2 linked regions of the Homo sapiens genome follow. The protein of the gene in region 1 binds, or shares a complex with, the protein of each later gene. Each region holds a gene or a part of one and is shown on either strand. Other genes may lie near its edges. A codon is read from its position in the direction of its gene.

Region 1 (9,873 bases):
GAAAAAAAGATTTAATTGAACTTACAGTTCCACATGGCTAGGGAGGCCTCAGAATTATGGCAGGAGGTGAAAGGCACTTCTTACATGGTGGTGACAAGAGAAAATACGGAAGATGCAAAAGCGGAAACCCCTGATAAAACCATCAGATCTCACGAGACTTATTCACTACTACGAGAACAGTATGGAGGAAACTGCCCCCATGATTCAAATTATCTCCCAGCAGGTCCCTCCCACAACACGTGGGAATTACGGGAGTATAATTCAAGATGATATTTGGGTGGGGACACAGAGCCAAACCATATCATTCAGCCCTTGGACCCTCCGAATCTCATGTCCTCACATTTCAAAAGCAATTATGCCTTCCCAACAATCCCCCAAAGTCTTAACTCATTTTAGCATTAACCCAAAAGTCCACAGTCCAAAGTCTCATCTGAGACAAGGCAAGTCTCTTCTGCCTATGAATCTGTGAAATCAAAAGCAAGCTAGTTACTTTCTAGATACAATGGGGTACAGGTATTAGGTAAATGCAGCTGTTACAAATGGGAGAAATTGGCCAAAACAAAGGGGTTACAGGGCACGTGCCCTGTAACAGAAAGCAGTCAAATTCTACAGCTTCAAAATGATATCCTTTGACTCCACGTCTCATATCCAGGTCATGCTGAGGCAAGAGGTAGGTTCCATTGTCTTGGGCAGCTCCATCCCTGTGGCTTTGCAGGGTATACCACCCCTCCTGGCTGCTTTCACGGGCTGGTGTTGAGTGTCTGTGGCTTTTCCAGGTGCACAGTGCAAGGTATCAGTGAATCTACCATTCTGGGGTCTAGAGGACTAGAGGACGGTGGCCCTCTTCTCACAGCTCCACTAGGTAGTGCCCCAGTAGCATCTCTGTGTGGGGGCTCTGACCCCACATTTCCTTTCTGTACGGCCTTAGCAGAGGTTCTCCATGAGGACCCCACCCCTGCAGCAAACTTTTGCCTGGGCATCCAGGCATTTCCATACATCCTCTGAAATCTAGGTGGAGGTTCCCAAACCCCAATTCTTTACTTCTGTGCACTTGCAGGCTCAAAACCACGTGGAAGCTGCCAAGGCTTGGGGCTTGCACCCTCTGAAACCACAGCCCAAGCTCCACATTGGCCCCTTTCAGCCACAGCTGGAGCAGCTGAGACACAGGGCACCAAGTTCCTAGGCTGTACACGCACGAGGACCCTTGGTCCAGCCCATGAAACCATATTTTCCTCCAAGGCCTCCAGGCCTGTGATGGGAAGAGCTGCTGTGAAGACCTCTCACATGCCCTGGAAACATTTTCCCCATTGTCTTGGCGATTAACATTTGGCTCCTCATTACTTATGCAAATTTCTGCAGACAGCTTGACTTTCTCCTCTGAAAATGGGATTTTCTTTTCTGTCACATTGTCAGGCTACAAATTTTCCAAACTATTATGCTCTGCTTCCCTGATAAAACTGAATACCTTTAACAGCACCCAAGACACCTCTTGAATACTTTGCTGTTTAGAAATTTCTTCCACCAGATACCCTAAATCATCTCTCTCAAGTTCAAAGCTCCACAAATCTCCAGGGCAGGGGCAAAATGCTGGCAGTCTCTGCTAAAATATAACGAGAGTCACTTTTGCTCCAGTTCCCAACAAGTTCCTCATCTCTATCTGAGACCACCTCAGCCTGGACCTTATTGTTAATATCACGATCAGCATTTTTGTCAAAGTCATTCAACAAGTCTCTAGGAGGCTCCAAACTTTCCCACACTTTCCTGTCTTCTTCCGAGCCCTCCAAACTGTTCCAACCTCTGCCTGATAACCAGTTCCAAAGTTGCTTCCACATTTTTGGGTACCTTTTCAGCAACGCCCCACTCTACTGGTACCAATTTACTGTATTAGTCCATTTTCATGCTGCTGATAAAGACATACCCAAGACTGGGAAGAAATACAGAAGAACTGTATTTGGACTTACAGTTCCACATGGCTGGGGAGGCCTCAGAGTCATGGCGGGAGGTGAAAGGCACTTCTTACATGGCAGCAGCAAGAGAAAATGAGGAAGATGCAAAAGTGTGGAAACCCCTGATAAAACCATCAGATCTCTTGAGACTTATTTACTACCATGAGAACAGTATGGGGGAAATCGCCCCCATGATTCAAATTATCTCCCATGATTCAAATTATATCCCACCAGGTCCTTCCCACAACATGTAGGAATTATGGAAGTACAATTCAAGATGAGATTTGGGTGGGGACACAGAGCCAAACCATATCAGTGGGAGAAGCTTCCTAGGTGAGATGACTTTTGAGTCCAGCAGAATAAAGAGTAATTTCTTTACTCTGGGGTGGGGGGAAAGAGATGGGGGAAAGCAGGCAAAAAATGGCATTCTAAGAAGAAAGAGTAATAGTTGCAAAATCAATTTGGATTTTTTAAAATGTTTTATTATAGAAATCATAAAGGGGGCCTGGTGTGGTGGCACACACCTGTAATCCTAGCACTTTGGGAGGCTGAGGTAGGAGGATCACTTGAGCTCAGGAATTGGAGACTAGACTGGGCAACACAGGGAGTCCCAATTTCTAGAAAAATAAAATTAGCCCAGCATAGTGGCATACACCTGTGGTTCCAGCTTCTTGGGAAGCTGAGGCAGGAGGAGGTCAAGGCTGCAGTGAACCATGATCACCCCCATTGCACTCTAGTCTGGGTGACAAAGCAAGATTCTATCTCAAAACAAAACACGAAGGAAGGAAGGAAGGGAGGGAAGGAAATAAGAAAGGAAAGGAAAAGGAAGGAAGGAAATAAGAAAGGAAAGGAAAAAAGGGAAGGAAGGAAGGAAATAAGAAAGGAAAGGAAAAGAAAGGGAAGGAAGGGAAGGAAGGAAGGAAAAAAGAAAGAAAAGAAAGAAAAACAAGAAAGAAAGAAAAAGAAAGAGAAAAATCATAATGGGATTTTGATAAATTTTTAAGTTAGTTTGGTGGAAATGGACAACTTTACAATATTGACTGTATTACTTTTCCACATAGTCAAGTCTTTACTTGTATCTTATATGGAAATATGGAAGTCAGGTTAAAGTATAAATACTGTTACGTAAGATTTGAGTCTTACTCCTGTTATGTAGTATATGAGACTTGGACCTTGGTCAAGTTACTCTCTAAGCCTCAATTTCCTAGTTTGTATGAAGGGGGTGATTGTAATACCTACTTCATGGGTTGTCATCAGTATTAAATAACATATTGCATGTAAAGCGCCTAACCAAGTGCTTTACACATCACATGCAATCAAATAAAAAGCTACTTCTTCCCCCCTCCCTTTTTACATGGCTTTATTTAGGTATAATTCACATACAATAAGCACTTATACATAAACATATTTACAGTGTACAATTTGGTAAGTTTTGACATATATATACGTCCATGCAGCTATTACCACAATCAAGATAATGAACATTTCTATCACTCCCAAAGTTTCCTTATGCCCCTTTGTGATCCTTCCTTCCACCCCTATCCCTCATCTAGCTATTATTCTCAATTCTTCAAATAGGTCTTGTAATTCCTTATAAACACAAACTTGATTTTTGTCATTTTTGAATGTAATCTTCCTCCCAGTACATTTCAATTTTTTTTTTTTTTTTTTTTTTTGAGACAGGGTGTCAGTCTTTTCTGCAGGCTGGAGTGCAGGCTGGTGGGATCATAGTTCATTCCAGCCTCAAACTCCTGGGCTCAACTGATCCTCCTGTTTCAGCCTCCTGAGTAGCTGGGATTATAGGTACATGCCACCATACCCAGCTACGTTTTTTTTGTTTTTTTTAGAAATGGGGTCTCACTATTTTGCCCAGGTTGGTCTTGAATTTCTAGCCTCAAGCAATCCTCCCTCATTGGCCTCCCAAAGTGCTGAGATTATAGGCATGAGCCATCACGCCCAGTCTTCTTCTCATTACATTTTAAAATTGATGATTGTTGTTTAGGAGAGGTATTTTATAGCCATCTTATTGAATTAGTTTCAGTTTATTCCATGGATTTTCCAAGAAAGCAATCAATCATAACACCCTAAGAATTTTTTTTAATTTTCTTTCCAACATATACACTTAATGTTTTGTTTGGACTTGCTGGGTTCAGTTAGGACTTCAGGAAAATGTCGGCCAGTAGTAGCAGGCCTGCCCCTAACAACTTGATGACCTAGAGTACACAAAAGAGGTCCACACACCATATGTTTGAATATTTAAAGATTATAAATCAAGCTAACCAACAGTTAGATTAAAAGGTTTTGGTCGGGCATGGTGGCTCACACCTGTAATCCCAGTACTTTGGGAGGCCGAGGCGGGCGGATCACGAGGTCAGGAGATCAAGACCATCCTGGCTAACATGGTGAAACTCTGTCTCTATTAAAAATACAAAAAATTAGCCGGGCATGTTGGCACACGCCTGTAGTCCCAGCTACTCAGGAGGCTGACACAGGATAATCGCTTGAATCTGGGAGGTGGAGGTTGCAGTGAGCTGAGATCATGCCACTGCACTCCAGCCTGGGCGAAAGAGCAAGACTCTGTCTAAAAAAAAAAAAAAAAAAAAAATGTTTATCCTACTACTTTGACACACCTAACTTACAGCAAACATACATATAACAACTTAGAAGTCCAGGTCCAAATTTAGAATCTTTGAGTACCACACCTCCTGATTTTGTACCTGAGGAAGCTTTTTCAGAACTTAACACAAATGATCTTTTATTTCAAAAGATCTTATTTCACTGATCCTTGCATAAAAAACATTTTCTCACAGTATTGCCTAATACTTTAATTTTTCTCCTTAGAATCAAAATTTGATAAATACATTCTGGAGCTCATTGTAAAACAAATATCAGTATACATTATGTCCCCAAAGAAAATCCAAATTGCTTGGTAGATTTGGTGCTTTGTTTTAGAAATTGTCTTTCAAGGCTTTTTAAAGGATCTACAGGCCCCTAATCTTCCCTGTTTACCTCCTACTCTACTGGAAGACCCTAAGAACTCAGTTTCCTTAACTGTGGTTTGAACATCCTGATCACTTCTGAGACAATGCCATTAGTGAATACATTCTAAGCACGTCATCTGAATATTCACAGACATCTTTTTAAAAGGGCTGGATCTGGAAGTTAGGCCATGAAGAGAGGAGGACCTGTGACTTGGACAAGGCTTCAAAGCCGGCCACCTGCTTGTTCATGTGGTTGCAGCTGGTCTAACTGGAATAACTTGGGAAGGAAATTAGGACACCCAGTTGGAGTTCCAGCTCTGCCATAAGCTGGCTGAACTGGAGTGAGTCACTTAAAACTCTTTGTTAAACCCCAGAGTCATAATCTATAAAATCGGGATAAAGACGTTTGCCTTAAGCCCTCCACCAGTTTTTGGAGGAAACCACAATTTGCTGAGCTTTAATTTTTACACCTGTTGCAATTAAGATGGCACTCCTGCCCTGTCCACTTCACAGGGCTTTTGGGGACGGGATGGGGAGGCACCACCTTTCTGAGCTTCAGTTTCAAAACAGAGCTAAGAATACATGCCCAACCCGCAAATAAAATTCTAGGAAGAACAGAGGAAAACGGACAGGAAAACTGCGAAATGCAGTCGGCCATACAAGCATGAATTGTCTTAAACACAACAAGCAGACCTAAAGAGCGTTTGTGCGTCTCTCTCCTCTTGGCTCGAGTCACAACCCCATAACGTAAATCAATATCACTTTTGAAAAAGGCTTTCGCTGTTCTCAGCAGCGTCCGCATTTGTACTCACCTGTGCGCCCCCAGCGCCCGGCCTGGGGGCCCTGCGGGGCGGGGGCGGGGGCGGGGGCGGGGCCCAACCCTGCCCACCCCTCGTGATGCCCCGCCCCGTCGCTCCTGCGCCTGCGCCGTGCCCACCGACCGGCCTCGAGCGCCCCGGCGGGAGGTAAGGGGCTCTCTGGAGGCCGCCTTTGGGGGCGTCGGGCCCTCACAGGCTTGGTGGGCCTGGCGCCCGTGTGGCGCGCGCAAGAGGCGCTGGGCGGCAAGTAGGGCATTGGATCCGAAGTGCGAGCGCCATGGTGGCTCCTCCTGTTTTTCAGAAGTGGCGGAGCCTCGCTTGGTTTCGTTTTTGGAAGCTTTATTGGAAGCTGGTATAGGGAGGCCGCAGACGATGCGAGCAGGACGGCCTCCCGGGGTCGCGGGGTGGAAAAGTTTCCGGCGCGCGTCCTGTCTCTGGCGCGCTGTAGGCCCCGGGTCGCCAGGGTCGCTGGCGTCTGGGTCCCGGGACAGACCCGCGCATCCGTTCGCTGGTGGGGGCGTTTGGTGTGTGTGGCCCAGGTGTGCTGTGGGTGACACTGCGAGGAATGACGCGACGCTCGATGGTAGTGAGGCTCGGAGGACTGGGAGCGAGAGGCCGGAAGCCCCTGCTCGCCAAACCCAGAGGTGGTTGGCAGAAGGTCCCACACCTTGGCTCCCTCCTTTTAGCTAACCGAGGTTCAGAGAGGAGACTTTACTTTGACTTTTCTCTCCAAATTCGGTATCTCTTCCATAAGTCAGAAACATTAAGCGGCGGGCCGGAAGAAATCGGGCGCCACTAGTATCCTGAAAAGTGGGAGCTCTGGGCCGATGGAAGGTGTTCGTCACTTTTGGGGGCTGGGTTTCCTGAGAAATGGGGTCTTTCACTTATTAATAACCTCCTAAGTAACTTACTGGGAAACATGAGTATTATGGTACCCATCTCATATTAGTTGTAAGCACTACATGATAAAGTTTGTAAAGCACCTGGCACAGTCCTGGCACCCCTCTCTCCAAGTATTAATGCAGTGAATACGATGGCAGTTCTTTGACTTCTAAATGTTTTTACCTGTCTTACGTGAAACATCCTCTTATACTAAAAAACTTTTTTATTTTGAAATAATTTTAAAATTACAGAAAAGTTTCAAAAGTAATACAGAGTTCCCTATTGCCTCCATTAATAATTTTTTACATACCATAGCGCAATTATCAAAAGCAAGAAGTTAATATTAGTATAATACTATTAACTGAATTACTAACTTGTGATTTTTTTTCCTGTATTAATGTCCTTTTTCTATTCTAGGATCCACTCTAAGACCCGACATTGCAGTTAGTTGTCTTGGGTCCTTGGTCTCCTCCAGTCTGTGACAGTTCCTCTGTCTTTTCCTGTCTTTACACTGATAGTCTTTTTCTGTCTTTATACTCTTTCTGATCTTTACACTTTTGAAGAATGCTGGTCAGTTATTTTGTAGAGTGCCCCTCAAATGGGGTTTGTCCAGTGTTCTCTCATGATTAGATTAAGGTTATACATTTTTGTTAAGAACACAAAAGTGTGTGTGCCCTTCTCAGTTCATCATATGAGCATAGCTGATATATATGACTTATTGCTCGTGAGGTTAATCTTGATCACTTGGTAGAGAGTGTCTGCTGGGATTCTCCAATGTAAAGGTCTTATTTTTCTCCTTATAATTGACATCTTGGGGGGGAGCTTTTAAACCGTACGCATATCCTGTTTCTCCTCAGACTTTCCCTTGCTAAATTTCACATCCATTGGTGGATCTTGCCTTCAGCAATTATTATGACTATGGTGTTCTAATGATGATTTTCTACTTTCCTCATTTCTTTATTAATTGAAATTATTCTGTAAGGATGAGCTGCCCATTTCCCATTTGTTTATTTGTATTCCGTTATTTATTTGTATCCATGTGGACTTAGATGTTTTTCTATTGGTTGTTATCCTACACTTGTGTTATTTTATGTTTGAAATTGTTCCAGCTTTGATCATTGGGAGTTTTCTTTCAGGTTGCTTTCTGTAGCTTTTCAGCATGCTTCCATCCTTTTTTTTCTTTTTTGGAACTTCCTAATTTTCTGGTACCATAGGATGCCCCAGGCTCATCTTGTGTTTTCTGTGCCTCAGCCCTGATAGTCAGCCACTTCTCCAACGACCCGTAGTTTCTTTTTTTGGAGAATAGTATTTAAACACAAAGATCTGTGCTCTAGGGATGCTCATTGCTACTGGGGTAACATTGCTTCCAGGGCCCCACAGAAGACACCAGTCTATACATATGCATACCCATGCATACACAAAGATCTATGTTTATTTCTGTATTTGTCTATCCATATACTTTTTAAAAACAAAAGTTCATCCCAGTAGCTTTGCTTCTAGTCTAACACCACAGGGTTCATTCTAGTTTTGTCCCTTATTTTTAACTTTTTATCTGACAGTGAGAAATCTGACTCTTGGCATTCTACAAAATATTTTCTTATTTCTTCAGTCCTAGTATACACATAAAGTAATTTCAGGATTTCTGACCTATGTTCCTGTGAGAAACACATTTACTAAATAGAGTACAGTGTAGTTCTTTTTGTCTCTAGGCTTATAGTATTCAGTTAAAATATTGTTTTCTAAAGTGGCTTAGATAATTTTTCTTCCTCACTTCTTTCAGTGTGGTTATGCTATTCGTTTATAATACAGTTTATGTTTTTATAGTTTATATTCCATTTTGGAGGGAAAGAGTCTAAAGGTAGACTAATTGAAGCTCCATTATCATGGCTATGCATATTGTGCTATTTGACTAGAGTGATAGGATTAGCAATTGTATAGAAGGGACGTGTGAAGAAATATTTTAGTTCAGGCAGCATCTATTGAACAACAGGTGTGTTCAAAAAACATTTTGATAGGAATGATGGTAGATATAAAGATAATCTCTTTGTGGTATAGAAGAAAAGAAAAGAGGCAGTGTGATAGATTGGGAAATGTTAATGTTAGACAAATAATTGATACATTTAACATGTAATAGCCTTTTATGAGTTAATAAGAGAAAGACATCCCCTGTAGTAAAAACAGATGCATATGACATGAACAGGCAATTCATGAAAGAAGAAATGCAATGAGTACAAAAAAATAGTGATAGAGGATGAATAAAATATAGTACTTGATAGCCGAACAGGGTGACTATAATAATTCAATTGTATATTTAAAAATAACTAAAAGAGTATAACTGGATTGTTTGCAACACAAAGAATAAATGCTTGAGGTGATGGATACCTCATTTACCCTAATGTGATTATTACACATTGTATGCCTGTATCAAAATAACTCAAATATCCCATAAATATATACCTACTACTAATATATACCCACAAAAATTAAAAATTAAAAAAAGAAGAAATGCAGCTGGGCATGGTGCCTCACACTTGTAATCCTAGCACTTTGGGAGGCCGAGGCAGGTGGATCACCTGAGGTCGGGAGTTCGAGACCAGCCTGGCCAACATGGTGAAACCCCGTCTCTACTAAAAATACAAAAATTAGCTGGGCGTGGTGGCACGTGCCTGTAATCCCAGCTACTTGGGAGGCTGAGGCAGGAGAGTCACTTGAACCTAAGGGGCGGAGGTTGCAGTGAGCTGAGATCGCACCACTTCACTCCAGCCTGGGCAAAAGAGTGAGACTCCGTCTCAAAACAAAAAAAAAGAAAAAAAAAAAAGAAATGCAAATGGCTGATAAATCCACCCTGTTAGTAATTTAAGGAATGCAAAGTAAAGCAATAATGAGACATCATTTTTTTCACCAATGACATGTCTAAGAATGATAATACTAAGTATATTGCTTGGAATATGGATAAATGGACATTGTGTTATGTTTCTGGTAGGAACATAATAGGCATAACCTTTTGTGGGATATGGCTATATATATGTTTTAAAAACCTTGAAAAATCTGTCTACCTAATAATTCTATTTCTAGATATTTATTTTTTATTTTTATGTTACTTTTTTCAATTAATACACAATAATTTTACATATTTATAGGATACATGTGATGTTTTGATACATACATACAATGTGTAATGATCAAATCAGGGTATTTGGGATATATATCATGTCAAACATTTATTATTTCTTTGTGTTAGGAGCA
Region 2 (7,562 bases), on another chromosome or scaffold:
CCTAAGGTCAGGCGTTTGAGACCAGCCTGCCCAACATGGCGAAACCTGTCTCTACTAAAAATACAAAAATCAGAGGCCAGGTGTGGTCGCTCACGCCTGTAATCCCAACACTTTGGGAGGCCAAGGCAGGTGGATCATGAGGTCAGGAGTTCAAGACCAGCCGGACCAACACAGTGAAACCCCGTCTCTACTAAAAATACAAAAATTAGCTGGGCATGGCGGCGGGTGCCTGTAAGCCCAGCTACTCAGGAGGTTGAGGCAGGAGAATCGCTTGACCTGGGAGGCAGAGGTAGCAGTGAGCTGAGATCGCGCCACTGAACTCTAGCCTGGGAGACAGAGCAAGACTCCGTCTCAAAAACAAAAAACACCAAAAAAACAAAAACAAAAACAAAAACAAAAAAATTAGCCAGGTGTTGTAGCAGGTGCCTCTAATCCCAGCTACTTGGGAGGTTGAGGCAGGAGAATCATTTGAACTGGGGAGGTGGAGGTTGCAGTGAGCCGAGATCACACCATCGCACTCCAGCCTGGGTGACAGAGTAAGACTTTGTCTCAAACAAAACAAAAATAAAAAACCAACAGTTAAACACAGGGAGGTGGGCTAGGTGCAGTGGCTCACGCCTATAATCCCAGGACTTTGGGAGGCCGAGGTGGTGGATCACGAGGTCAAGAGATCGAGACCATCCTGGCCAACATGGCAAAACCCCAACTCTATTAATACCAAAATTAGCTGGGTGTGGTAGTGCACGCCTTAGTCCCAGCTACTCAGGAGGCTGAGGCAGGAGAATCACTTGAACCCAGGAGGCGGAGGCTGTAGTGAGCCAAGTTGGTGCCACTGCACTCCAGTCTGGTGACAGAGCGAGAATCTGTCTCAAAAAAAAAAAAAAAAAACCACAGGGAGGTGGATCAATGAGGGATACATGAACAGAGAGAGGTGGGGAAGGGAATTAACCCAAGAAAACAGCAAGGGGAAATGATAGCGTGTTGCTCTGTCGCCCAAGCTGGAGTGCAGTGGTATGAACATGGCTCACTGCAACCTTGACATCCTGGGCTCAAGCGGTCCTCCTGCCTCAGCCTCCTCAGTAGCTGCACTCACATGTGTGTGCCACCATGCCTGGCTAATTTTTCAAATTTTGTAGAGACGCAGTTACCCCTGCTGGTCTCAAACTCCTGGGCTAAAATGATCTGCCTACCTCAGCCTTACAAATTGTTGGGATTACAGAAGTACAACCGCGCCTGGCTTATACATTTTTTTAAACCTTTTTTTTTCTCTGTCCAAACAAAACTGTTTCATTAGCAGGCTGAAGAGAGACTGTGGTGTACAATAAAGAATCATTCTCGACCGGTATGGTGGCTCACGCCTGTAATCCCAGCCCTTTGGGAGGCCAAAGCGGGCGGACTGCCTGAGGTCAGGAGTTCCAGACCAGCCTGGCCAACGGGGCAAAACCCTGTCTCCACTACAAATACAAAAAAAATTAGCCGGGTGTGGCGGCGCACCTGTAGTCCCAGCTACTCGGGAGGCTGAGGCAGGAGAATCGTCTGAATCCCGGAGGCGGAAGTTGCAGTGAGCCCAGATCATGCCACTGTACCCAAGCAAGGGCGACAGAGCGAGATTCCATCTCAAAAAAAAAAAAAAAAGAAAAAGAAAAAGACCCTCCAGGATCTCGGTCTGTTGCCCATGCTGGAGTGCAGCAGCACGATCTCAGCTAACTGCAACCTCTGCCTCCCGGGTACAAGCGATTCTCCTACCTCAGCCTCCTGAGTAGCTGCGACTACAGGCGCACCGCCACACCCGGCTAGTTTTTTTTTTTTTTTAATTTTAGTGGAGACAGGGTTTCACCATGTTGCCCAGGCGGGTCTCGAACTCCTGAGCTCAGGCGATCCGACGCCTAGGCCTCCCAAAGTGCTGGGATTACAGGCGTGAGTCACTGCGCTCGGCCAGAATAATTGTTATTGAAGGTACTACTCTCTGAAATCTAAGGATGGGAAGAACTGATGAAGATGAGTTGGAGCAACAAACTCTTAACCCGCACACTATTTGTCTAGGATTTGGGAAGTAAAGGTAAGACCCTGGACTCAATCAAACCCAGGCTTTGGTCAACTAGGCAGCTGTCTGGGCTGAAGGGACTTCAATACCTCTATTGGTTGGTTAGGTGGAGATGTCAATGATGCGGGAAGAACTCGTGGACCACCTGCCCTGATGCTTCAGGGTATCACCTGACACTCGCAGGCACATAGTCCTCTCTTTCTGGCTCACTCCGGAAGGAATGGCCAAAACCCTGTGCCAGATTTTGCACAGGAAATAATGTCGAAGAAACGGACTCTCCATTTCCCAAACCTAGGACCTGCTGTTCAGAATTTTTACTCACCTGGACAGAAAATAATCTGGCGTTTCCCCGTGAGCTAGGCGTAAGAAAAAAAAAATCAACGAAGCAGACTAATAGCTAAGGAAGATTTCTGGGGTAAACTGCCCTCTTCAAGTACTCCAGATGCACATACCTTTACATAGTTAACAGATTGTTACCACCATCGAGTCACTAAGGTGCAAGAATCTATGCTAGGCAACTTGAGAATTCTCAAAAGATTGTGAGCAAAACATTTCTCGTCTCCGTTTGACAGCACAGAGACCGGCGAGTCCACACCAGCCCTGCCCCAGGCTCACCTCGGAAGAGGCGACCCCAACCTTCTCGGACTCGTACATGAGGGCCAGGGACCTGCTGGTGCTGGCGGCCGTGGCCTCAGCCCTGCGGAGGACCTCCTGCCGCAAGTACTGCTGCCTGTCCGCGGGCGCGTCGGGCCCGTCGGGGAGGTCTCGGGCGTCCCTCCAAGGGGCCGGCCGGGCGCCTTCGTCCTCCCCGTCGTCGTCGAACGGATTGTAGCTTTTAGGGTAAGCTGACATGGTGCCGGCGCGGCTCTCGGTCTGGGAAACAGAAGGAGGAGCCCCACTGCCGCCGCCGTCCAGGGCCTCGCCCCGCCCGCCGACCCCGCGGTCGTCGCGCGAACTCCTTCCGCGCGTCGCGCGCAGGTGGCCCCGCCCTCGGAGCCGACCATCGCGCAGGTCGGCTGGGGGGGGCCCACATCCGGCGCGCGCAACCGCAGCCTACTGTCCATCCCCTCTCTCCCCTGCAGCGGTGGGCCCGCCCCGCAGCCACGCCCTATCTAGTGTCAGCAACTGAGAGGTCACGTGGCGGGAAAGCCGGATGCACCTACGCCTGCGCCCTGAGGTCGGGCGCTCGCGGGCCAGGAGCGGGGAGCCGGCGGGCAGCGCCGCGGCTCGTGAGGTGATGGCGGCGGCCCCGGCCCGGGGAGGCGGAGGCGGAGGCGGAGGCGGCGGCGGCTGCTCCGGCTCCGGCTCCAGCGCCTCGCGGGGCTTCTATTTCAACACGGTCCTGTCACTGGCCCGCTCCCTGGCGGTGCAGAGACCAGCATCCTTGGAGAAGGTAACGTCGGCGGGCTGGGCCGCGGGCTGACAGGAGGAGGGGCTGGGGTGACGAAGCGTGGAGGCGGGACGAGGGTCTGTGGGAGGCCGAGGCTGGGCTCGCCGGCAGCCTGTGCGGGAGGGGGCGCCTGAGCGGAGGGATCTAGCGGGGGAAGGAGGCCCTAGTGGGAGGGGCTGGTGAAGAGAGAGGGACCGTGGGGGAAGGGTCGGCGGGGCCTGCAGGGCCGCTGCAGGTGGGTGGTTGTGGGATGGGGGTGGGGGATGTGAGCTGCTGGCCCAGGGAGCATCTTGTGACATCGCGGAGGTGGAGGCTGGATCGTGGGCGGCTGTGCGGAGCAGTGGGATGAGCCGAGGACCAGGGGTCAAGACCTGGGGTTCTGCTTCCGATTTCACCTGCTTTTTATTCCGCGACCTTGGGAAGATGGCTTTCTTGTAAAATGGGGATGCTTTTATCTGCTTTGCCGGCTTCACCGGACTGTGGTGACCAGGAGACGAAACACTGTCTTGAAAGTGCTTTGTGACTGTAAACCAACTGCGCAGTGTTATTCTACGAGGCTGGGGGCGTTAGGTTGGGTAAAAGATTGTGCGTTTGCAGAAGGGACAGTGGCAGGGAAAGGAGAGTGAACTGTCAGTGGGCAGAGAAGTGAACTTGGAATTGCTTCAGAAGAGAAAGGTGAAGTCATGCCAGAGCAATCCTCATCTTGGGAGAAAGGTGAAAGGCAACTCAGTGGTGTGCCTTGAGATCTGGAAAGAGACAGATTTTAGAGTGGGACCTGAATTTGTTCCCTGCACTGGCACTTACTTACCATGTCCTCTTGGGTAAATTTAACTCTTAGAGCCTCTGTATCCTTATCTGTAAAATGAGGTTGTTCTTGAGAATTAAATGAGTTCTAGCATAAAGCATCTTGCACAGGTCAAGGCACAGAGTGGGTGAGCAGTAAATGTCAACTTTCTTTGCCCACCCGTGTGCGATGAGACTCAGCACAGTGTTTAGCTCTGAAAGGATGGAATTATTTTCCCACTCAACTTTTTGGCACATGGAGAGAGGATGTTTTCCGACAAGATAAGACAGTGGTGACCGGAGACCAGCCTGCTGCAGTTGGGAGTGGTTTTGTGGCTGTCTGCTGATGGATGAAGCTGAAAGGCTGTTTTAGGCACTTTTGGCAGAGTGACCTGGTCCTTGGCCTTGTCGGTTCTCATATTTGATTTTATCATGCACCTTCGGGGTGAGAAGGTCCCGGCAGATTGGTGCTAACCTGACTTCTAGCTAAAGAGGGAGTACAATGCAATGGAAAGGACATGAGTTTGGAAAATGGAACCTCTGAATTTAAATCCTGTATCACTTGCTTTCACTAGTGTGACTCTAGACAGGTCAGTTCCCTTCTCTGATACTTTGCTATCTTCTGTCAAATACAAGGTAGTACTTCATAGGAGTATTGTGAAGAGCAACAAAAAGGCACGTGGGTACCTAATGTATGAGCACTGTTATCATTAGATAGTCTGACTAATGGAGTGTAGTGCTGTTTTATTGAATCAAACTCATGCTAGCTAGTCAGCACATTCGCTTCTTAGCAGGAGAGCCAACAAATATATCTTATGACTGATTGCTGGATTCTGGGAGGAGAGAGAAGAGAATGCAGTGAATTGGATGATCTTTAAGAAGCTGGTCCTGCAGCTCCAGCAGTGGTAGCACCCTTTCCACTCAGTAACTCAGAAAAGGGCACCTTGAGCTCAATTTGCTTCTTCAGCCATGTTCACTAGTCACGAGAACATTCTGTAATTGCAACATTCTTAGCTTTGTAGTAATAACTGCTTCAGTTGTCAAGATTATATTTTATGATGGGGCACGGTGGCTCATGCCTGTAATCCCAGCACTTTGGGAGGCTGAGACAGGCAGATCACTTGAGGTCGGAGTTTGAGACCAGCCTGGCCAACATGGTGAAACCCTGTCTCTGCTAAAAACCCAACATTAGCCAGGTGTGGTGGCACGTGCCTCTAATCCCAGCTACTTGGGAGGCTGAGGCAGGAGAATCGCTTGAACCTGAGAGGCAGAGGTTGCAGTGAGCCAAGATTGCGCCATTGCACTTCAGCCTGGGTGACAAGAGCAAAACTGTCTCAAAAAAAAAAAAAAAAGAAAAAGATTATATTTTACAAGGAACACAGCCATAGCCACAGGTTGGCAGCTCCCTAATGCCACTTACTTTAGGAAGTACTTCAGTCTCATTGGCAACATTTACCAATCACTTTTTTGGTTTTTTTGAGAGGGAGTCTCGCTCTGTTGCCCAGGCTGGAGTGCAGTGGTGAGATCTCGGCTCACTGCAACCTCTGCCTCTCAGTTTCAAGCTATTTTTCCACTGTAGCCTCCTGAGTAGCTGGGACTACAGGCGTGTGCCACCACCCCGGGCAAATTTTTTAGTATTTAGTAGAGACGGGGTTTAGTATTTAGTATTTAGTGGAGACGGGGTTTCACCCTATTGGCCAGGCTGGTCTTGAACTCCTGACTTCAAGTAATCCACCCGCCTTGGTCTCCCAAAGTGCCGGGATTACAGGCATGAGCCACTGTGCCTAGCTATTACTAATCACTTCTGTGAAGAAGAGTGAATAGAGCAGCACTGGGGCTGCTGTTTTTACAAGAGCCTGCTTACAAAGTTGGCCTTTGGCTGGCATCTGGGAAATAAGCACTTGAATGCTTTCCTCAATCCTGTAACTATTAGTAATAAAGATGGTTCACTATGCCTAGATCCTTTTTACAAACTATGATTTATGTTGAATACCTGCTTTCCTTCTGGGAATCTGATGGCTAGGCTGGTGGTGCATAAATTAAAAACTTAGGGTGCTGATTCTCTAATGGACTTTCCTGGGCACAAACTGCACACATGTATTGAATATTTTGCTGCTGTAGCAAGGAGCAAGCTTGATGTATATCCTCACAGGAGGGAGAGAACATAAGGAAGCCTGTGCATGGGTTTCTACAGGCAGCCCTGACATGCTTTTAGTGACACTTGAGGTCCTTTCCTATTGCTGATATCCATTCACTGTAAAAAATTTAGCCATGAGTACAACTATATACATGTGGGCAGTCTGGGGACCCCTGAAGCACCTTATTTCATAGAGGAGGCTTCTGTAAGTGGCTGACCCCATTAAATATATGTGAATTCCTCTCATCCTTATCTAAGATCTTGCGACTTGATTATGCTAGGGATCATTGTTAATATGTAGTCCCTGGCACATGTATACATATGTAACAAACCTGCATGTTGTGCACATGTACCCTTGAACTTAAAGTATAATAAAAATATATATATATAAAATATGTAGTCCTATAATATGTGTTTTACTACATTCCTCCTTTTGAAGCAATTGACAAAAAGCCCTTAGCATTCCCAAGGAAAAGTTTCTTGTTCTTTTTTTTTTTTTTTTGAGACAGTTTCACTCTTGTTGCCCAGGCTGGAGTGCAGTGGCATGATCTCGGTTCACTGCAACCTCCACCTCCCGGGTTCAAGCGATTCTCCTGCCTCAGTCTCCTGAGTAGCTGGGACTACAGGCACCTGCCACCACACCCAGCTAATTTTTGTATTTTTAGTAGAGATGGGGTTTCGCCGTGTTGGCCAGGCTGGTCTCAAACTCCTGACCTCAGGTGATCCGCCCACCTCGGCCTCCCAAAGTGCCAGGATTGCAGGCGTGAGCCACCACGCCCGGCCAAGTTTCTTGTTCTTAAGAGTAAAGGAATTTTAGAGTACGCACCTGAGATAATAAAGATGGAGACTTATAGGGGGAGATGAGTATTTAAAACCCAATCCCTCCCCTTCTCTCTTCCCTCTTCCCCTTCTCTTTGCTTCTATTTTTTTCTCTTCTTTCTTCCTGAGAGATTGGAGGACTGCGTGGGGCTTGATCTAGATAGGGTTGACCTGGCGAAGGCTAAGTTTGCAGAACCAGACCTCACATCTCAGCTCAGACATTGGTAACTCAGGCAGCCCTGACATGGTTTTAGTGACACTTGAGGTACATTAATGACATAACCTTCCCTACCTTTGTCTCTCTACATGCCACAGTTGTGTTTACTTACTCTAGTCACTCACTCTAATCCCAGTCCATGAAACCAAGCCTATTACTGCTCTGTGGACTT

Evidence for each region.
Region 2: the proteins of STX17 (region 1) and SNAP29 are in contact, whole or in part, in a crystal structure (PDB 4WY4), measured with the Homo sapiens proteins. Residues at the interface, in NP_060389.2 of Homo sapiens: Glu170, Trp172, Glu173, Leu175, Glu176, Leu179, Ile180, Ser183, Val186, Thr187, Phe189, Ser190, Val193, Asn194, Gln196, Gln197, Ile200, Ile203, Ala204, Val207, Asn208, Ala210, Ala211, Val214, Glu215, Thr218, Leu221, Gly222, Ala224, Ala225; in NP_004773.1 of Homo sapiens: Arg52 (codon at 2,743), Thr56 (codon at 2,731), Ser59 (codon at 2,722), Thr60 (codon at 2,719), Arg62 (codon at 2,713), Ser63 (codon at 2,710), Leu66 (codon at 2,701), Glu69 (codon at 2,692), Ser70 (codon at 2,689), Val73 (codon at 2,680), Gly74 (codon at 2,677), Ser77 (codon at 2,668), Glu80, Leu81, Gln84, Val87, Leu88, Thr91, Met94, Val95, Lys97, Met98, Asp101, Leu102, Ile104, Ser105, His108, Ile109, Ser111, Ile112.

Annotation. Positions count from the first base shown.
Region 1 is NC_000009.12:99,900,815-99,910,687, forward strand, and holds the start of STX17 (syntaxin-17), read left to right. Parts: upstream 1-5,839; 5' UTR 5,840-5,892; exon of another isoform or gene 5,893-6,389; intron 6,390-9,873. UniProt on the Homo sapiens protein: SNAREs, soluble N-ethylmaleimide-sensitive factor-attachment protein receptors, are essential proteins for fusion of cellular membranes.
Region 2 is NC_000022.11:20,854,445-20,862,006, reverse strand, and holds the start of SNAP29 (synaptosomal-associated protein 29), read right to left. Parts: upstream 3,001-7,562; 5' UTR 2,897-3,000; coding exon 2,660-2,896; intron 1-2,659. Other genes in the region: PI4KA (phosphatidylinositol 4-kinase alpha), read left to right, coding at 3,282-3,437. UniProt on the Homo sapiens protein: SNAREs, soluble N-ethylmaleimide-sensitive factor-attachment protein receptors, are essential proteins for fusion of cellular membranes.